Linked DNA regions of Homo sapiens. The protein of the gene in region 4 purifies or fractionates together with the protein of the main gene of each other region. This does not show direct contact. Each region holds a gene or a part of one and is shown on either strand. Other genes may lie near its edges. The genes, in order: SLC19A2, SLC7A2, PLXDC2 and ZFYVE27.

The links.
Region 1: the proteins of ZFYVE27 (region 4) and SLC19A2 purify together in Homo sapiens (affinity purification with mass spectrometry; 2 studies listed by BioGRID and IntAct, with this or other methods). This does not show direct contact.
Region 2: the proteins of ZFYVE27 (region 4) and SLC7A2 purify together in Homo sapiens (affinity purification with mass spectrometry; 2 studies listed by BioGRID and IntAct, with this or other methods). This does not show direct contact.
Region 3: the proteins of ZFYVE27 (region 4) and PLXDC2 purify together in Homo sapiens (affinity purification with mass spectrometry; 2 studies listed by BioGRID and IntAct, with this or other methods). This does not show direct contact.

Annotation. Positions count from the first base shown.
Region 1 is NC_000001.11:169,475,719-169,483,624, reverse strand, and holds part of SLC19A2 (thiamine transporter 1), read left to right. Parts: intron 1-5,867; coding exon 5,868-6,470; intron 6,471-7,906. UniProt on the Homo sapiens protein: High-affinity transporter for the intake of thiamine. Mediates H(+)-dependent pyridoxine transport.
Region 2 is NC_000008.11:17,562,704-17,570,609, forward strand, and holds the end of SLC7A2 (cationic amino acid transporter 2), read left to right. Parts: intron 1-899; coding exon 900-1,008; intron 1,009-2,246; coding exon 2,247-2,443; 3' UTR 2,444-7,863; downstream 7,864-7,906. UniProt on the Homo sapiens protein: Functions as a permease involved in the transport of the cationic amino acids (L-arginine, L-lysine, L-ornithine and L-homoarginine); the affinity for its substrates differs between isoforms created by alternative splicing.
Region 3 is NC_000010.11:20,140,805-20,148,710, reverse strand, and holds part of PLXDC2 (plexin domain-containing protein 2 isoform 1 precursor), read right to left. Parts: intron 5,417-7,906; coding exon 5,294-5,416; intron 928-5,293; coding exon 809-927; intron 1-808. UniProt on the Homo sapiens protein: May play a role in tumor angiogenesis.
Region 4 is NC_000010.11:97,739,385-97,747,290, reverse strand, and holds part of ZFYVE27 (protrudin), read right to left. Parts: intron 4,198-7,906; coding exon 4,127-4,197; intron 3,699-4,126; coding exon of another isoform or gene 3,660-3,698; intron 2,563-3,659; coding exon 2,376-2,562; intron 1-2,375. UniProt on the Homo sapiens protein: Key regulator of RAB11-dependent vesicular trafficking during neurite extension through polarized membrane transport. Promotes axonal elongation and contributes to the establishment of neuronal cell polarity.

The DNA.
Region 1 (7,906 bases), on a different chromosome or scaffold from region 4:
GTGTTCAGGGGGCACAGAAATAAAGCAGAGTTGCCAGGCGTAGTAACTATTTGCTGATTGTGTAACAAAAAACATAAGTGTACTTCTCTTATTGCAAATTAGTTGAGGAAAAGCGTGGGATTTGAAGAGAAATCTAGTAGTCTGGGGAAGGGGTGTCTTCTCAGAGGACCACCAAATCATGGCTGATTCTCCTCTGCTTACCTTGTGGCAAACCCTACGTTTTTTTGTATAACTAATAATTGAAATAAATAGAACAACTTATTCATTACTTACTGAATGCTTGTTTTTTGCCATGGACAGTTAAATAAAAAAAATTACATGATTTTTAAGCAAAGCTAATGCTAAGTCATATTCAGCGACATTTGTATTAAAGTTTGTATTTGCTCTTAGAAGACTGCAGAAGGGCCAAGTTGGTTTGAATAGAGCTATTGTTAACTAAATCCTAAAACAAAAGGAGAGGAGAAAAAGATTTCTTCTGTCTACTCTCAAAAGTTTTTTTCTTAGATTTCAGGAAAAGCATTAATTTTAAAACAGATACCAGTGTGTAAGTTTTAAGCAGGCTAAAATTTGACTGTATGTTAATAGTTGAAGGCCAGACTTTCAGTAAAACAGATCTTTATCTCTAAAAACTTTTTTATCCTTTCATCATTGTAGCATGTGTTTTGACAGACATTTACTACCTTTCTTAGATTTTTTTAAACATTCCACCTATTTTGCCTGATATTCAGAGCCTCACGAAGTTTGGTTTTTACCTCCTTGACAGCCTTATATCCTACTACAAACCTTCTTCCCCTTACCACTTCCACATAACCAAGCTCCATTCATATTAATCTAATAGTCTTAAGTCCAGCATATCCACAGTCTCATCTGTTGACATGTACTCAAAGACTTATTCTCTTCTTGGAATAATCTTCCCATATATATCTGTTGATATCTTTGTTAGCCTTTAGGTTTCTCATCCTTCAAGGTCCATTTTGAAGAAACAACCCTGTATTTCCTATTTCCATTATAAATACTGCATATATTATATATTCCTCACTAGGTTCAATACTCCTGGAGAGCTGAGGATCTCAGTTTATTTATTTAGAGACAGTCTTGCTCTGTTGCCCAGGCTGGAGTGCAGTGGTGCGATCTCGGCTCACTGCAACGTCTACCTCCCAGGTTTAAGCGATTCTCATGCCTCAGTTTCCTGAGTAGCCAGGATTATAGGCTTGTGCCACTACTCTCAGCTAATTTTTTATATTTTTAGTAGAGTCGGGGTTTTGCCATGTTGGCCAGGCTGGTTTTGAACCCCTGGCCTCAAGTGATCTGTCCAACTTGGCCTCCCAAAGTGCTAGGATTACAGGCATGAGCTACAGTGCCTAGCCTTATTTTATTCTTTTTTTTTTAAATTTTTTAATTTTAATTTTAATTTTTATTTTTTGAGATGGAGTTTCGCTCTTGTTGCCCAGGCTGGAGTGCAATGGCGTGATCTCGGCTCACTGCAATCTCTGCCTCCCAGATTCAAGTGATTCTCCTGGCTCAGCCTCCCAAGTAGCTGGGACTACAGGCACACGCCACCATGCCCGGCTAATTTTTTTGTATTTTTAGTAGAGATGGGGTTTTGCCATGTTGGCCAGGCTGGTCTCGAACGCCTGACCTCAGGTAATCTACCCACCTCGGCTTCCCAAAGTGCTGGGATTACAGGCATGAGCCACTGCGCCTGGCCATTTTATTCTTTTTGTCACCTCCGTGCTGGTTGAAAACAATGTTGTGCAAATAACTGCCTATTAGTTGTTTAATTGAAACTTGATTCTAATTTAAAGCCTAAATCTAAATTAGAACTTAAAAATGAACATCTGTTTTCCCTTGACTTTGTAGCTCAAGAAAACACAAGCACTGATCCAAAGAGTTGTGAAAGGCACCTTGGTCATAATAAAATCAATTCCCGTTGCTCACATAGCAGATGTTACGTGAAGTGAGAAGTTGGAGTATGGACAATTAATAAGGGTCTGTAATTGGTACATTTTTGCCTGTAGGATGTTTCCCTTCAAGATTCAAAATATCAAGGAAGCATTTTTTGCTGTCATTGGAAACACTGAAAAAGAAAAGGATCTGCCTTGGAGACCCATTAGTTAAGTGCTGGAGACTGTAGTCTTTATCTCTTCATGAATGCCCTGTAAAAGCACCTCAGTGCAGATTGGAAAAGCTACTGCAAGCATTAGAATTAACCTGGAAGATAGTAGATGATTAATAGCAGTTTTCTGATTGAAGAAACCAGGCATTTTAGTGTGGCGGATTCAGAATTTATGAATTCAGATCCTTCTTCTGCCAATCCTGTGATAACTTGGGACAATTCACTTAACCTTTCTTTAAGGCCAAGTTTCCTTGTTTGTAAAATAGAGATGATAGAAGCATTTACCTTAGGTTTGTGGTTTGGATTAAATAGAGAGAATTTAGAGAAAGTGCTTAGCGTGGTGTGTAACACAGCAGTAGAGGTTTGTTATTATGATGCTGATAATAGTGTGAGTGGGGCATTCCCCCTGGGTTGATGTCTTTTAAAGGAGAAAATGCAGGTTTCTTATTTAGAATAAGTTAAAGAGAAACTATCTGGTCTTCCCCCTCTCCCCTATTTGCCTTTCTTTTTGTTTTTAGTTGTTATTGCAAGGTTGGCAGTGTTACTCTCCTCCATCTTCATTATCTAAATTGTAGTTTTGTAATAGTAGAATTAGACTCATGAGTAAAGATACGTTAAATTGATAATTTAAAGGATGAAACTTAGACAATGAAAACTTAGCAGTTAATCATTTTGGGACAACTATGGTTAAAAGTTATGTAACATGTCTAAGCACAGACAATATTATTGGAGTGAAGAGGTCATCCAAAATCCCAAAACAAAGGAAGATGAACTATTGAAGGGAGCAGTAGAGGACATTTTTAAAGGAAAGGTTTAATGGCTAGTACTTCATGGTGCTATGTTGGGGAAATTGTGAAGGTGACACTTAGTCAAACAGAGGAGGCAGTTTCAAACTTTAGAAAATGGACAGGCTGGGTGCGGTGGTTCACAGCACTTTGGGAGGCTGAGGCGGGCGGATCATGAGGTCAGGAGTTCGAGACCAGCCTGGCCAACATATTGAAACCCTGTCTCTCCCAAAAATACAAAAAATTGGCCCGGCATGGTGACAGGCACCTGTAATTCCAGCTACTCGGGAGGCTGAGGCAGGAGAATCGCTTGAACTCAGGAGGCAGAGGTTGCAGTGAGCCGAGATCACGCCATTGCACTCCAGCCTGGGTGACAAGAGTGAAACTCCGTCTCAAAAAAAAAAGAAAGCTGACAGATAGTATCTGTAAAAGTATAGGCCACAAAGGAATGACAAGTTGTTAATTAGAACACAACTGGAAATCTCAAGATTACCCTTACCTGCTTTGGTTTTCTACTTAGAGTTATTTAATGCAGCTAAGGGCACTTTTTTCCTCATTTGCTAAAATTTCCACAGTTTTGAATACGAATCATTTCTACATTTCTTGATTATTCGTTTAGGCACATAGTCAGGTGCAACAAAATTTCCTGATCAAGTGGAGCTTGCTAACTGATTTACCAACACAAATTAGACCAAAATTCATGAAGGTGAGGCCATTAAACAGATCACTTTTGTCTGGAATGTATTTCAGAAAACAGGGATTATGTTTTACTTTTATAGCTATGCTCTGCACTGGCAAGAGATTTTGCAACAATTTTTTATTGTTTGCCTAAAACCTTAGAACCTTAGCTCATATTAGACTTGAGTGAACTGAGATGTACAGGAAAGATAAAAAGAAAGTTACTATTGGTCTCAGAATGTAAAAGTCTGGGATTAGGTTGCTTCATCACAAAGTATTCAGCCTTTTACCAAAACTACCTTTCAAAAAGCACTTAAAAGTTGAGGCCACTGACAAAAGGAAGGAAAAATCTCCTACAGTGATTGTTGTTGGAAGAATGGGAATGATAGCTCAATTAATTTAGTTAATTCATACTGCCCCAGATGTCCTTGTCAGCTTGTCCTCTAGTCTTCAGACTTTGTGAATAAATCAGGTGGAGTAAGTAATTTACATGTTGTGTCTCATTTACTTTTTGCAACAAACAACCGCCCTTTACTGATAATGGAGATTAAGGCTAAGGGGAACTAAAAGAATGTTGTCTACAATCACACAGCAAGTGATGGAACTGAAATTCCTGTTGGGGTCTTTCTGGTTTAAAGTTTATTTTAAAGATCATTTCTACTATATCCCAATTTTAAAATATGCATTAGAAAGAAAACAGCAAAAACTTCTTTTTTCTATTTAAAAACAAGCAAAAAGAAGGACATAAAAGTTGCCTATATTCCTGCCATCTAGAGAGACTTAATTCTGTCAAGACTGTAGGACACATTGACCATCTTTATTTGTTCCTCTGCCCCAAAAGAAACAAAACTTAAAGTCAGAGAAGCTTAATGAAACAGTAGGATAAAGGCTCCCTATCTTGTGTCTAGAAGTAAGAATTGACAGTGATTCCGTTTTCAAAGCATTTATTGAATAGTATCTTCCAAACAGTATGCTGGCTTTTAGACAGGTTATACAGGTGAATGTAGGGGTCTATCCTTAAAAAGCCTATAAGGCAGTTGTTCTCAACTCTGGCTCATTTAAAACTCTATTGGGAAGTTTTTAGAAAATATCTGTGGCTGGGCATTTTTTTTTTTTAAAGAGACAGAGTCTTGCTCTGTCATACAGACTGGAGTGTAGTGGTGTGATCATAAGTCACTGCAGCCCCAAACTCCTGGGCTCAAGCAATTCTCCCACCTCAGCCTCCTGAGTAGCAGCCATAGGCATGTGCCACAACGCTTGGCTAACACATTTTTTTAAAGCTTCTTAGGAGATGCAGCCATGGTGAAGAGCCAGTATTATGAATTAATTGGGGAAACTGATGCATATAGATCAGTATTAGGAGAGTTTGAGGCTAGGCCAGATGGCTCACATGTCTGTAATCCCAGCAGTTTGGGAGGCTGAGGCTGGTGGATTGCTTTGAGCCCAGGAGTTTGAGACCAGCCTGGGTAACGTGGTGAAACCCTATCTCTACCAAAAAAAAAAAAAAAAAAAAAAAAAAAAATTAGCTGGTTGTGGTAGTACAGGCCTGTAGTCCCAGCTACTGGGGAGGCTGAGGTGGAAGGATCACCTGAGCCTCACCTGAGGCGGAGGTTGCAGTGAACCATGATTCTGCCACTGCATTCCAGCCTAGGTGACAGAGGGAGACCCTGTCTCAAAAAAACAAAAAACAAAACCAAAAAAAAAAAAAGGGTTTGAATGTTGTAATACAAGTACTTTTGGCTTCCGCAAAGTCTTTCTGAATAAGGAAGTCTTTGAACTAGGCCTTGATTAATGGGAAGAATTTATTAGGAAAAAGATGATGGTATTGGGGATAGGAAAGGATATTTCAGGCTGGGCGAGGTGGCTCACCCTTGTAATCCTAGCGCTTTGGGAGGCTCCTCATTTGAGGTCAGGAGTTTGAGACCAGCCTGGCCAACATGGTGAAACCCCACCTCTACTAAAAATACAAAAATTAGCCAGGCGTGATGGTGGGTCCCTGTAATCTCAGCTATTCGGGAGGCTGAGGCAGGAGAATCACTTGAACCTGGGAGGCAGAGGTTGCAGTGAGCCAAGATCGTACCACTGCACTCCAGCCTGGGCGCAGAACAAGACTCCATCTCAAACAAAAAAGAGAGAAAAGACATTTTCAAAGTTATCTGAACTGCTGTTGTCAAGGTTGAGATCTTTGAGGTATTTGTAGGTTGTTTTTTATGAATAAATTCTTTATGAGTATTCCAGGTCCTTTCATCACTAATGTTTTTTGTTTTTTTTTTTTCTCTTTCTACCAGGTCTTCAATGAAATTTATCCAGTATGGACTTACTCTTACCTGGTGCTACTGTTTCCTGTGTTCCTTGCCACAGACTACCTCCGTTATAAACCTGTTGTTCTACTGCAGGGGCTCAGCCTTATTGTTACATGGTTTATGCTGCTCTATGCCCAGGGACTGCTGGCCATTCAATTTCTAGAATTTTTTTATGGCATCGCCACAGCCACTGAAATTGCCTATTACTCTTATATCTACAGTGTGGTGGACCTGGGCATGTACCAGAAAGTCACAAGTTACTGTCGAAGTGCCACTTTGGTGGGCTTTACAGTGGGCTCTGTCCTAGGGCAAATCCTTGTCTCAGTGGCAGGCTGGTCGCTGTTCAGCCTGAATGTCATCTCTCTTACCTGTGTTTCAGTGGCTTTTGCTGTGGCCTGGTTTTTACCTATGCCACAGAAGAGCCTCTTCTTTCACCACATTCCTTCTACCTGCCAGAGAGTGAATGGCATCAAGGTACAAAATGGTGGCATTGTTACTGACACCCCAGCTTCTAACCACCTTCCTGGCTGGGAGGACATTGAGTCAAAAATCCCTCTAAATATGGAGGAGCCTCCCGTGGAGGAACCGGTAAGCTCAGCCTTAAATATCTTGTAATTGCTACTATGGGGGCTGGACCCGTGGTGAAAAAAACAGCAAACTCCCTCTTGGTAGATCTTGTATTTATTTGGATTCATGTTTTATCCTGAGTTGGTTTATTGCTTTATTCATTCATTCATTCATTCATTCAAGCTATGGTTTATTTATATTAGGGATGACACATTTATTTTTTCCTGGAGTGCGTGACCTCCAAAGTCAGACTGATACAGCATTATATTGTTCATGTCAGAGATGCCTTGGATTGCAAGGGCTGTGTCTTCATCTTTTGAGTGTTTGGCATATAAATAAAGCACTCAGAAAATTGTTGCTAAATGAGTAGATGAAATGATTCTAATAAATGATTAAGTATCTACTTCTAGTTTCTGAATTGAAGCCCAAATTATTATTATTATTATTATTATTTTTGAGACAGAGTCTTGCTCTATTGCTGAGGCTGGAGAACAGTGGTGCGATCTCGATTCACTGCAACCTCCGCCTCCAGAGTTCAAGCAGTTCTCCTGCCCCAGCCTCTCCCTAGTAGCTGGGATTATGGGCGCTCGCCACCACGCCCAGCTAATTTTTGTATTTTAGTAGAGACGGGGTTTCATCATGTGGGCCAGGCTGGTCTCGAACTCCTGACCTCAAGCAGTCCACCAGCCTCAGCCTCCCAAAGTGCTGGGATTACAGGCGTGAGCCACCGCACCCAGTCATGAAGCCCACAGTATTTAAGGGTAAGAAGTTAATTTCCTCTTCTGTGCTAGAAGGGATATCTGTTATTTATTTTTCAAATGACAATTTGCTGAAGTGAAGTAGTAATGAATAATACAGACGAAGAGATCACAAGAGGACAGTTTGAGGTGGTGATGGAATAAATAGTAAAAGTGTGTTATGAAGCTGTCTCTTGGAAGAGAGAGGTATGGCATTAAAATAATTTATCCATCTGTTCTGTCTAGCCAGGAAGATGAATTCCTTTCCCTAGACACCCACCCTTTTTTTTTTTTAAATATTCAAGTGTTTTTTTTGTTTCTATTAGGTTATAAGCTGTGAGGAACAAAGTTAATTCCAGCCACACTGTAGTCTTAGTTTTCCTGGGACATGTTTGGAAATAAGCCTATTAACATTCCAGCTTTGTAGGTGGCCTCAGTCGGACTGAGCTCCATAAGCTTTGTAGGCTGGCTGATAATAAAGAACCATTATGAGTAAAGTCTTTCATTCTCTACTGAGAGTTAACTGAATTGTTTAAATGTGGCATCTAATGTCCTCATTGAAAATTACTCTCTTTTCTCTATCCCCGTTCTTCAGCTCTCAAATTACTACTTGAAATTTAGGTTATCATCCCAGAGAGCCTGGGTAGACTTGTAGAGCCTGGGCAACCCTCATCATGAAACTCACCTTGATTACCAGGGCACCTGTGAGCACTTTTTGTC
Region 2 (7,906 bases), on a different chromosome or scaffold from region 4:
GGGTATGTTCCTATCACAATATTATTATATATGATAGTAAACAAATTTCATGTTAAAGAAGCTATAATATCAAAAAAGTAGGGTGAGTATTTTGTTTTTAGAAATTCACTGCCTTCTCATGAGAACTTTGTTCCTACCAAAAGCCTTTCCTCTTGGGCTGGGTGTGGTGCCTCACACCTGTAATCCCAGCACTTTGAAAGGCCAAGGCAGGAGGATTGCTTGAGGCCAGGAGTTCAAGTGTAGCCTGGGCAACATAGCGAGACCCCATCTCTACAAAACAAACAAACAAATTAGCTGCGTGTAGTGGCTCATTCCTGTAGTCCTAGCTAGTCAGGAGGCTGAAGTGGGAGGATCACTGGAACCCAGGAGTTCAAGGCTGCAGTGAGCTATCATAGTATCACTGCACTCTAGCTTGGGTGACAGAGTGAGACACTGTCTCTAAAAATAAAATAAAACTAAATTGAACATTAAAAAGATAAGCTCCTCCACTGCAAGTTAAACTATCCTGTCCCATTTGAGCTAACCGTATACTGGCTTGGGTTTGAAGAGGGCTTCCTGGGAGGATGTACCTGGGATAACCATATGTATCCCACATTTCAGAGGTCTCCCCTTTGTGTGTCTAAATGAAATCAGTAAACCCCAAAGAAAGCTAAATCCTAAAACCAATATTATTTTGATTGTGCAGGTGTTACTGAATCTGATAAATCCCCTGGTGCCTTGAGCTTTAGTAAATACTCTAAGATGTGATTCTCCTTTTATGGTCTCTAGAAGCGTGGTTTTAACTGTGATTGACGTGGTGTGAAAGTATATATGCCAAATTAATTGCCACCCTGTTGAAATAACTTGGGGAATATGCTTCAAAATATGAGTATGTTCAAAAGGATTGTTTTCCCCCTCAGGTTCCATTCTTACCATTTTTGCCAGCGTTCAGCATCTTGGTGAACATTTACTTGATGGTCCAGTTAAGTGCAGACACTTGGGTCAGATTCAGCATTTGGATGGCAATTGGTAGGTCTTTTAATGTCGGGTTCTCTTTCCTATTTCATGTGCTGTGATGAGAGAAACATGCCCTCTCCCCCATCCTGGGAATAAAGGCTTTTTTTTCCCGCTTCTTTCTTTCCTAATTCTTAGGGATGTCCGAGTGCTTTTCCAGATGTTTTCAGATGCCTTTTTAAGTCAGTATCTCCCACTAACCCTGTAGAACCATGTAGGCTCTATTTCCTTCTACTTATGGGTGAAAAAAATGAAACCCAGAAAAAGTCATTTTATATCAACCCAAAACTCACAACCAATTTTCTAAAATAGAACTAAAACAGCAAAATGCCTACATGTCTGCAGTGATCTTAGGAGGGTACTTAAAACGTTGCCTCCTGATCCCCACACAGTCAGTGTGGCTGTTAATAAACAGTTGCTTTGCATACAGTTCTTCGGACTCTCCTGGTGACAGTGACACGTGTAAAGCATGTCCGTGTCCTCTTTGTTAATACAGAGTGTACTTTGCAAAATATCTGATCTTGACTCTGATAACTCACCACTTGTATTTAGGGTATAATTTGAGACTTTATTCCACATATCATTTTGTTTAAAGTACAGTATTGACTTCTAAGAACATCAATTAAAATTTTTCCATATAAACATTGAAAAACTTGTTGAGAGCAAAATACAGTCTATAAAGTTTGGGTCTTCACAATAGAGAGGCACATTCTACCAGGAAAATATTGATCAAGGACACCTTCTGTGGGGTATCTTACATTTGCATTTCATTCTTCTAAAGCAGCGGTCCCCAACCTTTTTGGCACCAGGGACGGGTTTTGTGGAAGACAGTTTTTCCATGGACAGGGTGGGGGATGGTTTGGGGATGAAACTATTCCACCTCAGATCATCAGGCATTAGTTAGATTCTCATAAGGAGCATGGAACCTAGATCCCTCACGTGTGCAGTCCCTTCTGTGAGAATCTAATGCTGCCCTGCTCTGACAGGAGGCAGAGCTCAGGTGGTAATGTTCACAATGGGGAGTGGCTGTAAATACACTGTAAATACTAGAGACTGCTTGCTCACTTCCTGTTGTGTGGCCTGGTTCCTAACAATAGTGGTCTGTGGCCCAGGGGTTGGTGACCCCCGTTCTAAAGTACTACAGAAAGGAAAGAGACAAACTCTATTAAGTTCTACATTTTCCACCTCAATAACTTAAAAGTCATTTTCTGACATACCTGAAACATTGATTTTTTTTTTTCCTGCCCCAACAGGCTTCCTGATTTACTTTTCTTATGGCATTAGACACAGCCTGGAGGGTCATCTGAGAGATGAAAACAATGAAGAAGATGCTTATCCAGACAACGTTCATGCAGCAGCAGAAGAAAAATCTGCCATTCAAGCAAATGACCATCACCCAAGAAATCTCAGTTCACCTTTCATATTCCATGAAAAGACAAGTGAATTCTAACACTTGCAGGAGCAGAGCTGGTCATCGTCTTAGCATACATATCCTACACTGAGTAAACCGTAACGGGATGTCATCAGCATGCTGGGTTGTCATGGGTTTGCTGCATACATAGTTCACCCTAATTTATACTTACTCATCTGGACAGCATCTCCTCAGATGGTGAATTATGTGCACGGGGAAACCTCCTGAGTGGAAGTTTCATTCATCAGTGATGAATAGCCCCCAAACAGTGGGAGTGTGTATGTATGTGTGTATGTATGTATCTATGTATATGCTTGGGAACATGAGTGTTACAAGTTAGCTGGTGTTTTACTATTATTGTGTTACATTTTTCCAGTGTCGTCATTAATCGGTGGCATATACTGCACATACTGAAATAGAGGGAAATCACTGAATGTAAAGAGGTTTCATCTATGCCCCCTGCAGTTGGGGAAATACTAGTAGCTTTACCTTGTTTGACTTCATTAATGTCAGTTTAGGGGATGCCAAAAATGCAGTTACTCATCATGGTGTCTGTCACTGGTTAGGGGTAAGATGAGGGGATAAGGAAAGAGACTTTTCAATAAGTTGTGAATGCCAACAGTGGGTTTAATGCAAATTTTTTTTCCTGTGAGGTATGACAGTTTGCTCAAACTTCAGCCAACAGGGGTGTCTGCTTCTGCTGCACTACACAGGCCAGGAGTGGCATTCCATGCCACTAGTTGGCATCCTTTTGAACTTTTGTCTCCTTTGCAAACAGTGGTCCTAAAATACGAGGTCTTCACTTGCTGTGAATGACGTATCCCCAGTCAGGGACTTAAGAGAGGCACTGTGATATACTTGGGACCCTTTAAATTAAAAAGTGAAGATAGTCACCAGGGCCAGAAAGCTCATGGAGTGGCCGTAATGAGAATATGTTTGAAGATCAAAGAGTTAGACCAATGCTTGAATAAGTAGACCCCAAGCATCCTTTTCTAAAAAGTGACTTAAAATAAGCCAACAGACTCTCCCAGACCACACAACTAGTGGAATGATTCCTCCTTTTTCCATTACTTACTTAATCACAGTTTAGTTTTTTTCTTAACCTCGTCAGGCCCAGAGTTCACTTCTTTGTTTCTCTGTTTCTTTTGTCTTGTCTTAGAGATGAGGGGGCTACAGCAGCATCATGCAAAGAGGGAAAGATGAAGGGATAGAAGAAGAGAAAATCCCCCTGTTCTGATAGGAACGGCCTGTTCCATTGTTAAATGGCAAATGGCCCAATTTAAGGGCTTTGGATCTAATTTGCCTCTGATGTTTCCTTTGGAAACATTTAGGAATATTTTTCTCCCCCTACCCCATAAATTGTGTAGCACTTTTTATTCCATTTGCTTTCAAATGACTACACTAAGCCTAATAATACAAGCTCCAGTGTTATACAATAACCCATCAGTGATTGGGGAATCAAACATTTTGGTTTAAAAAACATGATTATTTAAAACTGGAAACTAAAAAGAATCAAATTGAATTAAAGCTATATAAACACAGTTAACCCTTGTAAATGAGTAAACAAATTTTTACATGTAAGATTCTCTAATTGTCATATTTTACTTTTTAGGATTCCCTAATAGTGGACTGTTTATTTGCAGTGTATTTGCTTCTCATGAACTATTTCTCGTACAAATCATTAAATAGTTCATTGGATGAGGCTGGGTGACATTTCCCAGGACAGCATGGTGAACATTACCAGGCATGCTAGCTGGCCCGTGTAATCCCAAGACAAGGAAAACATTCGTTTTCCTCATGGGTCTTCCAAGAAATGAGCTATTTTATTGATGCCATTAAAAAGCAAGTTGCGATGGTTTTGTATAGCCAGGAGTTTATTGTGATTAAACATCAAAGAAACAGGTAGAAAGCCTGGGTTTCTGGCTGCTAGCGTTATAGCATCCATGACACAGAACTCATTACGGACATTCCACAACTTCCAGGGTGCACATGGTAAAATCTGAAGCCCAGAATTTTCTCTCAAGCTGCGTGGTTTACTGGAGAGAAGGAGTTGGATAAGCACAGGCTCGGGTATTTTGGTAGGGACTGTAGGCATGCTCATAAATCCTTGCTGTTGTCACAGTACGCTGAAAACCCGTTTGATTCTATACCCAATCAAGAATAGACCCTTCACACAGGAAATGTGAACAATTGTTATATATGAACACTCAAATCTTTTACTGTAACGAAACCAAGAAACTTGTTTAGAATGTGATAGGCAGCTAAAACTGTTATGCCCACTGTGCTCAATTTGAAGCAGAATTTAGTGAAAAATTATTTTTCCACATTGAAACACTTTGCAGACACAAATATCTATGAAAAGATGCTTTGTCAGCCACTGTGCCTTTTTTTCTGTGAAGACTCAACGGATGTGTGTGTTTGTATGTTTGTTAACAGTTACATATGTTTGTATGAGTGTATATATATATCTGTGTGTGTGTATCTCTAACGTCAGTGTATAAGTAAGTTGGGTTTATGGTGGGCTTTGACTATGTCATTAGGTGGGTACAAAACCCAACTGATGTGGAGAAAAATTGATGTTTGATGTTGATAGATATGCTTATACCTAATTTTTAGTTTTTAAACTATTTTAAAATATACTATGATTTTATATGTATATTTCCTATAGACTCTTTAAGACGTATTTATAATGTTTCTAATATGAAATCACTAAACTCTAGTACATTATAGCAGGTGCTTTGTAATCTGGAATGGAGAAGAGGTAGGGGCATTTGGGGATTCCTGTTTACTTGCTGCTGCCACACCTTTTCCGACTGATCTGTCCTGGTAGGTGTTTATTAGCAAAAGTCAGTATCACCAGCTCTTTGGCACCTTTCTGTTTCTGCTTGTGAATTCATAATGTTTTCAACTAAATTTTTTTTTTCTTTCTCAGAATTACCTAAATGTTTTGTAGAGTTTTGACTAGTAATCAATCAAAATTATATAAAGTCTTCTCCAGTAATTAAGAAATACATATGCAAATTCTTTTGTGATTGAGTAAAAGCAGCTTAAATTACTTTTCTTTTCTACATTAAGAAATATATTCTCAACATTTTCAGTGAGAATTTCTTGTAATGGCACCTCAAATTTTATACTCTTAAAAAAAAACAATAATTTGTGAATTACCACCAAAAGGCAATGGCAGTCCTACATTTAAGAATAGAGCTATGCAAACTCTGTTAAAAACTATGAGGAAAACTTATATTAGAACTTTTGATATATACTAAAATACTGATTATCTTAATCACATTTTCCCCAGAGATAAACATTGAGAGAACGAAAGCCAAAGTGTCATTTAAGAGAGATATATATGAAAAAGTAACATTAATATATAGAACTTTACCATCACCAGCCGTAGTTGATAGAAAATATTAGTTTCAGAATTACCCTCCTTTAAAAAATAAGAGACTATTTGTTTTCTTTTAATTTCTATGAATAAAAGAAATTTTTAAAAACTTTAAAATTTTAAATATTAGTCAAAATACTTTTTAAGTCCTGAGTGCTTACAGGTAGTTGTTAAAAAAATTTTAAGGCCAGGCATGGTGGCTCGCTCACACCTATAATCCTAGGATCTTGGGAGGTCGAGGCAAGCTGATCGCTTGAGCCCAGGAGTTTAAGACCGGCCTGAGTAGCATAGCAAGACCCTGTCTCTACAAAAAAAACAAAAATTAGCTGGGCATGGTGGCATGCACATGTAGTCAGAGCTACTGGGGGTGCTGAGGTGGGAGGATCGCTTGAGCCCAGGAGAGTGAGGCTGCAGTGAGCTGAGATTACGCCACTGCACTCTAGCCTGGGCAACGGTGAGACCCTGCCTCAAAAAAAATAAAAATAAAAATAAAACACTTTAATTAGAATCTATTTTTACCTATTTTCTAAATTTATTTAAATGCTTAGCAGGAAGCATAAGGAAAAGCCATCGGCCTCCAATACCCATGATGACAGAGGGAGCACTTGAGCCTTGCCTTCCCTCCTCTTAAATCAGGGTGTGTTCCGAGATTACAGAACATCACACCTTGGCGTGATGAAATCATGCCAAGATTCTGACTCTCCCTTTCCGGTGATACTGCTCATGATTTCTCCTAATACGCTTCAAGCAACTGTTACCACAAAAAATACAGTTTCCGCAGGGCTTTAAAGGATTGAGTTTAGCATGTATATCATGCGTTATTAAAGTTCACGTGATTCATGTGAAATTAACTGTCCTTTTTGCTAGTGCCAAAACAGTGCCTTCTCTGCACACTTTACTTGTTTATAAAGTTCTCCCACATGTCCTTAAATATCAAGGGGGAAAGTATGGATATTCGCGTAGCAATAATGCCAGCAAAGGTCATTTTCATTTTTTAGTCATATAGATATGAAAATAAGTTCATATAGATATGAAATTGCTTGACTTTATTGTTTTGGGGAGATTTTTTTTCCTTACATGATTATATTAAACACTTTAAAATAGCCTTCCGGTTTCTGGATTTTGAGAAGCCTGATCTGTTATTGTTGTGGTTGTTGGTGTTTGTAATATTCATTATTGTTTGTATATACACGGTTTAGTCTTACTGATTTCAAATGCATTTTGTTATTGCTCAACCCAACTGGTAACACTGTTTGCTGGGAGCATTATACTTAACTTTGATTCACCATGGTTGATGCCACTGCCATGATCGCTGGGTCTTAAAGAGCTTTCCCTAGCCACTGACAGCCCCGTGGAGATCATAATCAGGGCCCCAGGCTGGTTCCAGGATCAGGCAGCCTATAGAGTGTGAGCATCTATGTGTAGCTACCCTTGTTGGGTGGGCTCTTAGACTGATGGGGTAGGATATGAAGTGAAAGACTTCAAATGCAAGTAAGGTAGTTTGGGCTCCTTAATTCCAAACATCCCATGAGTATATCAAGATGAATAAGGACCAAGGGACCTCTGTGACTCATAGAAGGGCTGGCTGAATCCTGAAGTAGCATAGTGGGACCTGGTCTACAATTTATGCACATGCACTGACAGCCTTGCTGTGCCACGTGTCTCACCAAGACCCAGTTGGGAAAGAGCGTCATATTGCCAACAGGTTGGGTTTCTCTGGCCTACACCTGATTAATGGGCCCTTTATCTTTGGTGTCCCCTAGGAGTGTCCAGTTGTTTTATTGCTGTATTTTGTTATTGCAGTACTTAATAAAAATTGTTGATAGGGCCCAAAACCCTACAGAAATTCTATGTCTGTAAAAACCAACAAAGGCATTGGACTTGTGTGAATGTACAGGGTTTTTTTAGTAGTAATTTTAAATTTAAATGTTTTAAGTGATCATCAGTGTTCCTTTTTACTTATAAAGTTGGATTCTTTTTTAGAATTTGTAATAAATAAAAACTGCTGCTTTACCACTGTAAAATATGCTTTCTGATGTGGTGTATTTTTAAAATAAATTTTAATATGTAATAATATAGAATGCAGATGTTACCCATACCAAAAGCACACATTTCAT
Region 3 (7,906 bases), about 78 Mb from region 4:
CATTAGTAATTCTCACAGTTCAGGTTTCTCTCATAATTAGAGACTATCTAAAACATTACATTTGTAGTTCCTGGAACTTTATTTTTATATTCTTAGTCCAACAGGCCTTACTTACTTTGTCAGAAGAGTTGGAAATCAAACACACAGTTATTCTAGTCTAAATATTCTGTAAATTTAAGGCTACAATTTAGTAAATTTTCATTCTTTACTTTGTCAGTTTGTTAAAATGAAACAAACCTAAGTTTAAATTTCCTTGTTTTTTCTGTCACTTAGGTCTCTAATTAATCTTTCCTATCTGGTTTCAACAAACATTAGCCAAAGCACAGCCATCCTAGAACTCTCTCAGTACTGGGTCCTTGAGCCACATAAGTTTTCGTGTCTATAAATGCTTTTGAAATTAGAACCAAAATATAACAAAGAAATCAACCAGGTGAAAAAAAAAAAACTAACTAAAGAAAATACGTAAATATAAACATTTACATTTAGATGAGAAATCCCTCCAAATTGAATTTTTTTTCTTAGAGACATTTCACTCTAATTACTCAATAATTAGTCAATATAATTACTCAATAATTTTATGAAATTGATGAGTCCTGATGCCAACAATATCAGAATACAAAAGAGCTAACAATCAATGCACCCAGAAAATTAAAACTAATCAAAACATTTTTTATTAAGCAAAGGAAACCAAGAGGCAAGAAAATGATTTGAGGATCATGGCTGTAAAATGTCCCTTTCTTGACATTTGGAGGAAAGGCAGCAGTCAAGAACAAGGGGAAGGGAAAGAAATTATCAACGCATCACTTACTTCTTTGTATCCAAAGATGATTCGTCCATCCATGAGCAGGGTTGCCTGGAATGTGAAGCTTCCCAGGTTATAATTATCCTGGAGATGTACATGGTCCCACTGGACCACAAGTGCTGTGCCTATACACCCATTGAAAAAAGAAGAAATGCAATGAGAAAAACATACCAATCAATTCTGGTGGGAGTTTTCACAAAAATGTTTTTGCATCTGGCCTTCAAATCTGGTAGTTGTACTATTTCGATTTTATGTGGTTAATCAAATTCTGTTATTGAAATAGCATTTGGGATTTTTTTTAAAGGATTGAGTACTCTCTAAATATTTAGTAAAATAGAACCTCATACTAAGGTCAATAATTGAGCTAATGCAGTGTGGGGGAATTTTGCCTTAGGAATTTTATTAATGTTAATAGATACTGTCTGCTTAAATTTCCATAAGCCACTTTCAAAATGCAGCCCAAGTGGATTGAATGAACTTCAAATACATTTGACAAATGCTGAGAGAGAAACACATCTAAAAAGTTAGGACCACATACAAAAGACCTGAAAATGTCTTTTCCATACTTAAAATTATACTTTTCCACATTGAAGGAGTTCCTTTAACACTAATGGGAATTTTCTCCTTGAGTTCACAATGCTTGTATTTCTGTCTTTGTTGTGTTTCTTCCAGGAAGCTGTAAGAAGCTCAAAGGGCCCTGGACTAAGATTTTTGAAGTCCCCTTGAAGCACACTGGGATGAAACTTCAGTGCTGTATATTATATTCTGAATCACTCTGTCAGTGTTTACCATAAACGATTGGGCATGAAATAAAAACTGAAACATAGTTTAATAGTCACCAGTGAGAATTCAAATTTTTGTTTTAACTGACATTGTGTACTCTCTTTTTTTAAAAAAAAAGAAAAGAAATGAGCTGCTAAGACTTTTTCTTCACTCTAAATATTAGATTTTTCTGTTTGGTTAGAAAAACTGTTGCCCAAAAAAGTTGTGCTGAAAATGAAAATCATAGAACTAAAAGAGCAAATCTTATCTCCCAGTAATAAATATCTGATATATTTAAAAATTACAATTGCATGGAAGAATTAATTTTCAGTAACTATTTGGTGCTATTAGTAATATCTCTTGAGCTGGTTGACAATTTTAAATAGACACATTATTTCAAATATTTTGAACACCCAATTGTAAGTCCTGAAAGGATGTTGAAGTAAAGAAATGTATTTCTTTTGAGGCAAAACTTTAAAAGTAAAAAAGAAAAAAAAGTTTTTTAACTTGACCTTGGTGCTTTTAGCCATTATCACTGCTGTGAGTGAAGACCACTCAGGTCTCTTCCTTCCACGGGCATCTCCGTGTCTATATTGTCCTGAGGGAGGGAGGGAGGGAGGGAGGGAGGAAGGAAGGAAGGAAGGAAGGAAGGAAGGAAAAAGAAAAGAAAAGAAAGAAAGGAAGGAAGGAAGGAAGAAAGGAAGAAAGAAAGAAAAAGAAAGAAAGAAAGAAAAGGAAGCAAGGAAGCAAGGAAGAAAGAAAGGAGGGAGGGAGGAAGGAAGGAGAAAAGAAAAGAAAGAAGGAAGAGAAAAGAAAAGAAGAGAAAACAAAAAAAATAGAGCAAAAGAAGACAGTAGCCAGGAAACCTCCCATGATTTTATAAGTATAGGAATTTTCTGATTGTGAAATGCCTCCTAACTTCTTTTTCCTTCACACATGTCTACAACCCTCAAGCTCTAGTCTATTCCTTATTTTCTAGTTTCTATCGCACTCTGGTGATGCAGTGAAAACAATGAACCAGAGGGCAGAAGACTTAGACTTGCATCTTGTCTCTATAAAACTTTCCATGTGAACTTGGACACAATTAATCTGCATGAACCCGTTTCCTTTCCTATAACATGGGGAGTATAGTTTTTGCCTTCAAGACATTCCTGCATTAAATACAAGAAAATATACTTACGCTTGATTATTTATGAAAATAAGAGGGCTATATAAATTAAAGTTTTTAATGCCAATTCTGAGGAAGGGATTCCTAATATTTTGTTAGTAGCAGGTTGTTAAAAACCACACTGTTGACCAGGTGCGGTGGCTCACAACTGTAATCCCAGCACTTTGAGAGGCCGAGGCAGGCGGATCACGAGGTCAGGAGATCCAGACCATCCTGGCTAACACGGTGAAACCCCATCTCTACTAAAAAAAATATTAAAAAATTAGCCGGGCGTGGTGGTGGGCGCCTGTAGTCCCAGCTACTCGGGAGGTTGAGGCAGGAGAATGGCATGAACCCGGGAAGCGGAGGTTGTAGTGAGCAGAGATCATGCCAGTGCAGTCCAGCCTGGGCGACAGAGTGAGACTCCATCTCAAAACACAAAAAACAAAAAAAAGTGTACTGTTTGCACATGTTAAGTTTTATATTATGTAATAGCATAGCTCTCTCAACATTTGCTGATTTAAATTTTCTAACCTGCTGCTGTCTTTTCCAGAGAAGTTTGCTTTCCTAAATTGTTGAGTTTCCAATCTTTAAGTATCCTGTCAATGATTCTAACTAAACTTGAAAATATTTCAGCAAGTTGTTGTGGTATTAAAAGGGCTTCGTGAAGAGTCTTACAGTGTTTAAAAGTGTTTCATTCATTTAATAAAACGTAAGTTTTCATTATCATATTGTTTGAACTCAATATTCCTCAATATTTGATTCCTATGGAATAAGTCATTACACAGAAGATATTTCAGTGGGTAAACAATACATGCATTCTTGAGTATTAATACTTTTACAATTCTCAGACATAAAACTCACTTTACGTATGTAATTATTTTTATTCATTCATTGAATAATTATTTAGGACCTACGTCCTAAATAATAAAGTGTCTATGCAGGGTACTGGAGATAAAATGATTTCTTATAGCCACAGTCCTTGTTTTTAAAGAACTTAAGAGTTCAGTTGGAGTAGTATACATCAATTTTTAAAAATCATTCAAATACGAGTAAAATTCAAATATTAAGAGCTACCTAGGAACAAGGTATATGAAAATATATGAAGAGAGACTTATTTAATATGCTTTATGATTTTGATAGCAACAGTATAAAAACTTGGTCATTAGAATCATGTGCCCATGAGTAAATGACCCTAACATCACCTAGTGAATGTCGGAGTTTGGAAAATAGTCAGTGTTCACTAAATCATTTATTGTTTCCGTAGGATAGACTCCCAAGGCAATTTTGCATGGTAATCATAGAATAAGTTTCAGATAAGTTTCTGGCTGCAGTTTTGCCTCAAGAATAGTGTACTTACAGTCCACTTGCACATCCTTGGGTGTTAGCACCTCATGAGTTTTTAAAAAATGGAAGAGAAGAGAATATAATAGTTCTTAAAATAACAGAGATGAATCATTATTGCAGCTAACACTTAGAGTTACCTAATATTGGATCATACCTTGGTGTTACTCAAGATGTTCAACGTGTATTTCCTAAGGTGAATGTCTAACTATGTTTAGTTTCCTCATTGTGCTATTTTGACCTGTAAAATGGCTTTCATCACACTGGTCAGGAGATGGCTCTTAGCAAAGTGATCATATTTCTCCAAGGCTACAGCTACCATCAAGTCTATTCCAACCATGAGCAAATTTCTTCCTTGATCATCAGAAATAAGATAAAAGTAGAAATAACTCTGTTCACCCCAAATGCTTGTATTATTTGCAGGCATAAAATTGTCTTTTAAACAAATAAATATCATTTTTGAATGATAAATACACAGAAAATTCTATATTTAATCATTGCAATATAAACTCTTTGTTACCTATAATTTATTTTCTCTACCAAAGTTACAGCTTTCAATAAGATGTTGAGATGAAAATTCATTTATGTCTCCAAGACCTTGAATTTCTCGCTTGGATTTTGGCACCACTTAATGATTTATTATAGTTTTTTTCTCTATTTTATATGTCCCAAAAAGTAATAGCAGGGATACATTGCTCTTGGTATATTTGATAAATCTTGACAGGCTCTCACTCATTTTCTAAAGTCAAGAAAACTTTATTTTCTTCAGTTGAACTACCCACAACTAACTACTTTATACTTCTTAAAATATGTGTTCATCTTATTGATACATACAAGTCATAAGTTTTGGAAATTTAATGTCAATATATTATGGCACTTGCCTCAACTGGAAGATCAGAACTAACAAAATTATTCTTATTTCCATTTTTTTCTGATGGGAAAATTGGAAAACTGACTTATTGAAATAGCATCAAATAAATGCGTTTGCTTTGTCTGAGGTCTTGTCTACAGCAACTCAGTTTTACTGTGTATAGTAGATGTTAATAAATGTGTTGAATGAATGAATGCCATTTGTGTACTTTATAAATCTTAGCAGTATAATATTTGTCCTCTCAGACCATTTGCATCAAGCAGTTTACACACCAAAAAATAAACAGTTTACAAAAACATTAACATGAATCTGATGCTTGAGGTTTAAAAATATACATGCAGCAAAAAATAGGCTACTCAACACATACCATTATCAAAATATCTGACAGTTGAATTTCTGGATACACTGGGATCGAAATTTGCCATTAAAGGTGCTATGTACTGTGTGGCTGTTAGCATTCGATGTACGACTTCTCCAGTGTATATGAAACCTAGAATTAGAAAAATAGGAAACATATTCAGAAAAAGAAGCCCATATAAAATTATGATTAAAATACTTCCAACTCAATTACAGTCATATTATGAAAATAAAATGTCATGGTAGCTGGAAAAAAAGGAACATATTTAATATCTTAGTATCTAATTAACAATACTTGGTCTGGATTAAGTAACAAATTCTTGTATAATTTGGTAGAACCTTGCAAATCCGAAATCTATAACATGTACAATTTTAATTGGGGGGAAAGTGACCATTATCTGGATGAGATTATTAGGCTAAAAATGCTAATACAGTATTATAAGTAATTCAAATATTCAATTTGCTATTATTAATCCCTTGTTATTTTAACAATAGCTTACCACACAAGTCCTTTTAATTAGTGAATTCATTTTCATGGTATTTATGTAAGCTACCATCTCAGCATAGGAATTTTAGAAACGACATCTGGTAAAATGCAGAAAATGTTTTGATTCTTTTTTTTTTTCTTGAAAGTTGAAAGGGGGCTAAACACCCATGGTGACGTTTTCAAATTGTTGGTTTGCTCAAGCCTCTATATTATCAGCACACTGTCAAGAAGATAAAGTCTATATGTTTGCAGGTAAGGTGGTAAAACATTGACAATGCACAAATGCCTCTCTATTTAGAGATTTAATCAATGCCAGTCTATTCTAGCAGTTGGATAATGAGAGGGAATTTATTATGGAGAACTTTGGCTTTGAATTAACTTTCAATAGCTCCTATGTTACATGTCTAACCCACTTTCAATTATTCACACTAGGTTTATTTACTTTGTGGATTATCCATGACAAATTGTTAATCCTGTGCTGGCTTCTTGCTTTCAAGGTCTTTAGCTGTCTGAAAGGAGAGTCAGCTCAGGGATTGCTAACTAATTTTAATATTAATCTAAGAAATACACAATTGAGATTACACATGCAAATGCACACACACAAATAAAATGCAAGGCAAATTATTTGTGACAATGCAATTGTAATGTTTGGGCAGTCATCAGTTAATTAGATACCCGACACTAATATAAATCATTTTTCTACTTTCACAGGAATTAATAAGATAATAATATTTAAAGCTCAAAAAATGTTAAACTTTGATCACTCATTTTATGGTCTGAATAAATATTTCATTGGCAGATTGCAGTCTTCATTGTTTCAAATTCAAAATTGTGATGTCTAGGTAAGTTATTGCAGAATTAAACCTGTAGTTATTTACTTAGAAATTAATTTCTCTCTTTTTGGCAATATCTTCTTTCCTTTGAATACCTTTTAACTTTTCATCAAAAGCATAATTGAACTCTAGCTATTCATCTAAAAAAATTTTTAACTGTAAAAATCTTCAATGTGTACTTTTATCATCATGACTTTTTGTTTCTTATGTGACTCCTTGTTTCTTATTTGCCAAGCACTATCTTTCAAAACAAATACCTGATGCTTTAAGCAGAATTTTGTACATTTGTAATTTCACACAGCTCAAGCATATTAAACATATTATGGTGATTTGGTCATTGCTTTTATTATATTTCCTTCTAGATTTTCAGAGTCATACTCCTAATATTCAAAGTGCAATATTACATCCTTAACATTATAAATATGAAGAGTAACTCTTTTCCAGGGTCTCTATTTTTTCTCCTATCCTCTCCAGCATGCATTTATAATTTATCATTAGAATGAATACAAAAATTCTATAGATACCATCTCTGAAGAGAAATGTTTGAATTAGACTCTGAAAGTGTTATTTCAGAGAAAATAGCTCCAAGTAGGTTATTTTTCTTCTTTATATTCTCCAAGTACAAATAGAAGAAACTGCTTAACTTGGAGGATGGAGGGCAGTTATTCAAGGAAGGAAGATAATTTTAAATAAATACAAAATCCATTCTCCAAGACAACTTTGTAAGAAGAACAGCAGCAATCCCTAGAAATACACTGTTGCAAAATGTAAGAGCATTGATGATTTCAGACACTTCAAACTTACTGTTAGTATTTAAGTAAATAAGATATATGTACTTTCCCCTCAATGTTTCTACATAGATTTGCCAAGAAACTGCTCCCACTCTCAATAACCCAATTTTTAAATCACAGAAACCATTAACTGTTATTTCTTTTGATCGGGAAAATGTTTCCCAAATCTACAATTTATCAAATGTCAAAGGTGAAATTTCAAATTGTTTCCAAAGAAGTAAGTAGAAATACAGAAGAATTTGTTAACATGTAAAAGCCATAGATATGGTTTTTAATTATTTTATTACTAGAATATTAAAATAAGTTATGTCACTATGAGTATTACGGTTGCTACAACCAAAATGAACAAGAAACTGCCACCACAATTATTAGCATGTCTGGCACTACTATTACTACTACCACTATTAGTACCACCACCACGAAGACTTAACATGAAAAAAAAAATAAAAACCCCAAGAAGGAAAAAAACCCTACTACTCTACAAAATGAGTTTAATTTTACTAATTCAGGGA
Region 4 (7,906 bases):
ACCAAGTGATCAAAGTCAGTATTTCCTGACATCAGGTGCCTCCTGATACGGATGTACTGAACATGACACATCACTTGTCACACTCTAAATCTGATCACAAGGAACCAAACAATCCAAAAATTAGGGAGATTCTACAAAATAATAAGCTTGTACTATTCAAAAATGTCAAGGTCACAAGAAACAAGGACTGAGGAACTGCTCCAGATTAAAGAAGACTAAAGAGACATAAAAAAATTAAACATGATGTATAATCCTGAATTGGATCCCAGATCAGGGAAACTGATACAAAGAACTTTATTAGGACACCCACACTGGCTCACACCTGTAGTCCCAGCACTTTGGGAGGCTGAAGCAGGAGGATTGCTAGAGCCCAGGAATTCAAGGCCAGCCTGGGCAAGACAATGAGACCCTATCTCTACAAAAAAATTGTTTTAATTAGCAGGGTATGGTGCATGTGCCTGTGGTCCCAGCTACTCAGGAGGCTGAGGCAGAAGGATCACTTGAGTCCAGGAGGTTGAGGCTGCAGTGAGCCATGATCATGCCACTGCATTCCAGCCTGGATGACAGAGCAAAACTCCGTCTCAAAAAGTAAAAAAAAAAAAAGAAAAAAGGAAAAAAATTAATAAAAGAAGAAAAAGAACTTTATTAATACAACTGGTAAAATCCGATTACGAATTATACATTAGTTATCAACGTTAAGTTTCCTAATTTTGATTACAGCTCTGTGGATATTTAAGAGAATGTCCTTGTTCTTAGGAAATACACGCTGAAGTATTAAGTCACGTTTGCAACTTACTTTCAAATGGTTTAGGAAAAAGAAAAGAATATGTATATGTAGAGAGATAGACGAAGCCAACATGGCAAAATGTTAATAATTGTTCTATCTGGGTAAAAGGCATTCTTGGTATTATTCCTGTACTTCTTTAAGTTTAAAACTATTTCAGGCTGGGTGCGGTGGCTCATGCCTGCAATCCCAGCACTTTGGGAGGCCAAGGCAGGCAGATCACCTGAGGCTGAAGTTCGAGACCAGCCTGGCCAACATGATGAAACCTCATCTCTACTAAAAATACAAAAATTAGCTGGACATGGTGGCACATGCCTGTAATCCCAGCTACTCTGGAGGCTGAGGCACGAGAATCGCCTGAACACAGGAGGCAGAGGTTGCAGTGAGCCGAGATCACGCCACTGCATTTCAGCCTGGGTTACATAACAAGACTCTGTCTCAAAAAAAAAAAAAAATATATATATATATATATATATATGTGTATATATATATAAAACTATTTCAAAGTAAGAAAGTCTTTTTTAAAAAAACTACATATCCAGGCCCCACTCCAGATAACTGACTCGGAATTTCTGGGGTGAGGCCCAGCCATCTGTTTGTTTATAACTTTTCTTGCCCCTATTCTATTTCAAGAGAATGCAGAGACCCCACTCCAGGGAAGGGAGGTGTAAACGTCCACTGCTACTGAAGTTGTTAGATGAATATTTTTCAAGTCTTAAAATGCTTCCTCAGAAGTACCAGCTCTGTCATGTTTACGAAGTTTCTCCACAGTGTAGTGATGATAACTAATATCTACTCAACACTTCCCCAGTACAAGACACCTGTTCAATCTTCACAACCACCTTCTGAGTAAGCCCTGTTATCATTCCATTTAACAGATGAGAAACTTGAGACACACAGAGGCTAAGCAACTTGCCCAATGTTACACAGCAAGTAAATGGAAGAGCTGGGATTTGAACCCAGGCAGTGGCTTATACATGCACATGCTTAGTCAAGACCCTAAACTGTCTCTCCAGCAGAAAGAACAGGGCCAGGCGTGGTGGCTCACGCCTGTAATTCCAGCATTTTGGGAGGCCGAGGCGGGCGGATCACAAGGTCAAGAGATCGAGACCATCGTGACAAACATGGTGAAACCCGGTCTCTACTAAAAATACAAAAAATTAGCTGGGCGTGGTGGTGTGTGCCTGTAGTCCCAGCTACTTGGGAGGCTGAGGCAGGAGAATCGCTTGAAACCAATGGAAGGCGGAGGTTGCAGTGAGCCGAGATTGCGTCACTGCACTCCAGCCTGGACAACGAGAGCGAAACTCTGTCTCAAAAAAAAAAAGAAAGAAAGAACAGAAGCTGTGAAAACAAACAGCTAGATCGAGATTCTCATCCCAGCTTGGCCACTTTCTAGCTAAGTAAGTCAGCCTTTTTCTTTACCCATAAATGGAAGATGTTAATATTAACTACCTCCCGGAACTGTTAAAAAGGTTAAATGAAGTAACAGCTGTGGTTTGCCTAATATGATGTCGAGCACACAAAGCTAGCACTTAGTGTCATGGCTGCTGTTACTGTTCCCCCACCTCCCTGGCCTCTCTTCCATACTCACAAGCTCTTCACCTCAGCCACGGCCTCGGGACGAGACAGGCGACCTCTCTGCAGGTCCTCCTGCCTCACGCTATGATACTTCCTCCGCATCAGCTCGGAATCAGGCAGCCGTGCCCGGCAAACCTCCTGAAGGTAGCCCAGCAGGGCGGGCACTGAAATCATCAGGGCACCTACTGAGTACCATGCACCTGCAGAATCAAAAACACTGCAGGTAACACAGGTAAGCAAAGACCAGGAGTCGGCCCACCCAGACGCCCACTGCTTGTTCCTCACCTCCTCCAGGGCTCTGCCAGTCAGGCCTTCCCTGATAGCTCTGTACGACACAGTGTCTCACCCCTACTCTCCAGCCCCCTTAACCCAGCTTCATTCCTCATAGACCTTATCACCACATGACACATTGCAGGCATGTCTGTTGTCTCCTCTAATGAAGTAAGCTCTTGAGGGCTGGGACTTTGTCCCTTTGGTCACTGCTGTGGCCCCATCCTCACTTTTAATACGTTTTAAGATGCTGCTAGCACAGAGGAGGCTCACGCTGGAGTGTGACTGCCAGGAGCTCCTGATGCCTGACACTCGGACCTCTGGGCCACTAAGGAAGCTAGAAGCCTTTCGTTCAGCTTTTAGGACACTGCAGACGATTGTGCCTTGAGAAATGGCGAAGCCGAGATAAAATTCAAAGAAAGAACTTCTTCCATGTAACATGGCACCCCAACAACAAGCTAACAGAGCAGCGGGCCCATAATAAATGCTTACTAAACATCTGTCATAGGAACTGACTTACTTTGGGAGCATATATAGAAAAATCAAACATCCTAGGAAGTTTTGAACAGGTAAAGATGAGTCCAACTAAGAAACAGAAAATGAGATCTTATATGAACTGGATTTATTTTCAACCTACTCAATCCCTATCTCCAGAGGAAACAAAGAAGACACCTGAGAAATACAAGGTAAGTAAAAGAACAAAAACATGAATAATGGCCCAGCTCCTCCAAACATTCTGTCCCAGACTCTTTATTCTCACCCTGAGGGGTTTGGCTTTTTATGTGGCCATCTGCCAGCGCCAACCACGGATAGGGTAGGGTCACGGTATGCACTGTAGTAAGAGGTTCATAGAAGACATTACCCATGACCCCAACAGACACCCATGTGTCCACACTTCTATCTCAAAGGCTTCATGCCACTCCTCACTGCTGGTGACTGCCCAGCAGCTCCCGTTAGGCTCACTAGCTGAACCAGAGAAAAGCAACAGATATGGCAAAAATCCCTTATCAGCTCCTCATCCCAGTACCTTTACTCATGCCATGTCCCCAGATGACCCTTGAATCAGCTTAAAAACCAAAATGGAAAAAGGTCAATGCATCCTCAGCAGGAAGTCAAGAAGGAAACAACGATAATACTGAGAGCAGCTACAATGCACTGGCTGCCTCTTCCACGCCAGGCACTGTGCTAAGTATTATGCCTAGACTGCCGCATTCCTCACAAATACTCTAGGAGGAAAGCGTCATTTTTATCCTCCCTCTAGAGGTAAGGAAAATTAGGCCTTAACAGGGAAGTTCAATAATCTGCCCAAGGTCACAGCAGGCAGCTCAGCCTGGATCGTCCCTCTGGAGGCTGTTTCTGACTCCAAGCAGACACAGAGGAACACTAACTCCAGGGCAACAAGAGCAGCTCCCACACATAGGGTGGGGCTGCATCCAGGTGTTCTTCCCCCACATTCGTTCACAAAAACCACTGGCCCCTGAAGGCAGTTCTTACCCTCATTCAAAGTGAGGAACAAGACGTTGAGGCCCAGGCAGGTCAGCAAGGAACACAAAGGCATCTGCCACCTACAATACAGAGAGTCCTGATCACTACAGAGAGTCACTCCTCCAGCTGGGGAGGGGAGACCAGGCAGCACAGACGGGACATCAAACCAGAAGAGGAGGCCTGGAACACAGAAGGTCAAGGAGAAACGAAAAGGGGGCCTCTCACTTGGACTGGTGACCAGGAGAGGCGGTAAGATGTCACACATTAGCACCTGGGGTGAGGAAACTGGTAGGTCTGTAGTGCTTTCTCCCAAAAGGAAGAAGAATTTATAAAATATCAGTTAAGAAACCCAGTTAATACCATTTAACCTGTGTTTTGTAAGGTTGTATTCTCCTTAAGAGGTGACACTGACAAATGTTCTTAATATTTTCCTCTATTCTTTTTTTATAATTTCATAAGAATATATAATCATTGCACAAGATTCAACTAATACAGAAATCAAGAAAAAACAAATTGTGGACTTCTTTGGCCCCATTTGTGCCTTTATCTTCTTATGTCCATGTTTTTGAAAATTTGAGAGTTTATCTGAGAGTTTATTTTGAATACCTATTAATTCAAAAAGAGAAACAATAGTAAAGATTTTATTTTAATATATTAAAAATCAAGATGAAAGTAGGGTGCAGCATTCACTTAGCAATCACACCTTAAGTGAGCTGGAACAGACAGAAGCAAACACAGATACATCACTGCCACCACCACCACCACCACCAAATGGCAATGCAGAAGCCCCCAAACAGGGAACAAGGAAGACCAGAGACTCAGATTGCTGAGAACAAGCAAATGCTGCTGGCTCCGTCCCTGATAAAGGACATTTAGTAGGGAAAGAGGAGCACAGATGCAACAATGAAGCCACGACACCCAAATTCTAAAGGCAGTGTCAATATATAGGTGAGCCACTAGGAGAGAGACAAACATCAGAAAAATAAACAGGTAAATTGCTGGCAAGCATTGAATGTATTTTCTTTTTTTTTTTTTTTTTCTTTTGAGACAGAGTCTCGCTCTGTTGCCCAGACTAGAGTGCAGTGGCACAATCTTGGTTCACTACAACCCCCGCCTCCTGGGTTCAAGCGATTCTGTCTCAGCCTCCCTAGCAGCTGGGATTACAGGGGCACGCCACCACACCTGGCCAGTTTTTGTGTTTTCAGTAGGGATGGGGTGTTTCACTATGTTGGCCAGGCTGGTCTCAAACTCCTGACCTCAGGTGATCTGCCCACCCTGGCCTCCCAAAGTGCTGGGATTAAAGGCGTAAGCTACCGTGCTGGGGCTAAATATATTTTCTTGTGCTCTGGAGTATTTCAGAGTTACTGAATGAGGTTAACTAATTCATGCAGGGCTTTTACTTTTTTTTATTATTATACTTAAAGTTCTGGGATACATGTGCAGAACGTGCAGGTTTGTTACGTAGGTATACACGTGCCATGGTGGTTTGCTGCACCCATCAACCCATCATCTACCTCAGGTATTTCTCCTAATGCTATTCTTCCTCTAGCCCCCACCCCTCAATAGGCCATGGTGTGTGATGTTCCCCTCCCTGTGTCCATGTGTTCTCACTGTTCAACTCCCACTTATGAGTGAGAACATGTGGTGTTTGGTTTTCTGTTCCTGTGTTAGTTTGCCGAGAATGATGGTTTCCAGCTTCATCCATGTCCCTGCAAAGGACATGAACTTATCCTTTTTCATGGCTGCACATAGTATTCCATGGTGTATATGTGCCACGTTTTCTTTATCCAGTCTATCATTGATGGACATTTAGGTTGGTTCCAAGTCTTTGCTATTGTGAATAGTGCTGCAACAAACATACATGTGCATGTGTCTTTACAGCAGAATGATTTATAATCTTTTGGATATATACCCAGTAATGGGATTGCTGGGTAAAATGGTATTTCTGCTTCCAGATCCTTGAGGAATCGCCACATTGTCTTCCACAATGGTTGAACTAATGTACACTGCCACCAACAGTGTAAAGGGGCTTTTACTTTTTAATGAAATTTATGAGTAAGGGAATGAAATGACATCTGTGTCTTTCTCCTGAAATTCAACACACTCCACCTGTACCACCCTAATTACGCCTCAGAACCTCTAGTGGCAGCTACCAGGGTAAAAGCGAAATAAAAGCCAATCCCATTTTGGAAATAAAAACACCACCACTCAAGTCACTTTCATTTTAAAGCCTCTTCCCTTCTATAAAATGTCTTTACTGACACTTTGGTCCCAGGAGACCCAAGCAGTAGAGTAGCTGATCCCAGGAGAGAGTCTGTTAACAATTTACTGCAGCTCTAGGCTTCAGACCTAATAGCCAGAGCCCAAGATTAGGTCCCTCTTCAAAGTCAAATCCTCTTTACTAAGAAAAGAACAATCAAAAGCACAAACTAACGTGACAGCCACTTTCATGGACCAGTGCTCCCTCTCCCAGCAGCACAGAAACTGCAGGCTCCTGGGGGCTTTTAAGTCCAATGCTCCTCCTGCATCCTGCTTTAACCAATCCTACCACATCCTCCAATTTTTAATTCCATAAAATGGAAAAACCCTAACACATTAGTGTGCTAAGACGCACTACGGACTAGTAGAGGAAAAGGAGACGGGCAGGACAGGATACACTTAACTTTCGTACTTTGCCACAAAGAGCAACACACACATACAAAGAATGTGCCGGGGGCACAGCCTCTCTCCTAAAGAAGACCAAACTTCACATCATGCTGAGATTATAAAAGGAGAAAACAGCCTCTCCTCATACTGTCTCCCTACCCCTTGTGGGAAGAGCACAGTGATCTTACAGTAGAGAACACAGCTCTGGAACACTGACTAGCTCACCTCTACGGATACAGACATAAATTAGGTGAACAAGAAAAATGTAGGGCCTTTGCCAGAGAACTAGTAACAAAACATCCACTATTTCCAGACTGAGGCATGGATAAATACTCAATGGCATCCTCAGAGGTTAACGTAACTCCACTCACCCTGCTTCCTACCAGTCTCTCTCATGTATTTCAGAGGACTGAGGGTCTTTATGAGAATCTGATGAAAACCAGAAGCTTTTCCCTAGAAATACACACATGTGCAGACACATAATTTTACATGCAGTTTCAGGGGATTCACTGATCCCTAAAACTCACCCATAGGCTCCAAGTTAAAAACCTCTGCTCTTTAGGACAATCAGGTTTTTGTGTGACTCCTGATGCAATGCAACACCAGGGGCACAACATTTACCTTTGCAAAAAAAAAAAAAAACACTTTTCTAACTTCAATCAAATCCAACCTTTAAATCTAACTTCTAGTCTGCACCACAAGGAAGAAACCAGACAAATCTCGGTAGTAAATTCTCCAGGAAAGTCAGTTCAGGCTCAGTCTCTTCAGCAAATCAATGTCACGAGAGAGATTGTCTTAGACTGAAAAAAGACTTAAAAGACATAATAAGTACAAACAATGCACACTCCTGGACTGAAATGTGATTTAGCCAAAAGAGATGGTACAACTGAGGAAATGGAATATGAACTGAGTATAGGATGATATCAAGGAGTTATTAATTTTGTTAGGTATGGTGTTACTTTGATCTTGAAAGAAATGTCCTTATTTAGAGATAAAAACTGACATATTTAGGGAGTAGAATGCCATATAAGTAATTTAAAATAATTTTAACATAATAAAATGAGTCAAAAGAAAAAATGAAAATTATAGAGAATGAAAATCAAAGCAGGATAGGAGGGAAAAAGTTAAGATCCATAATCTCAA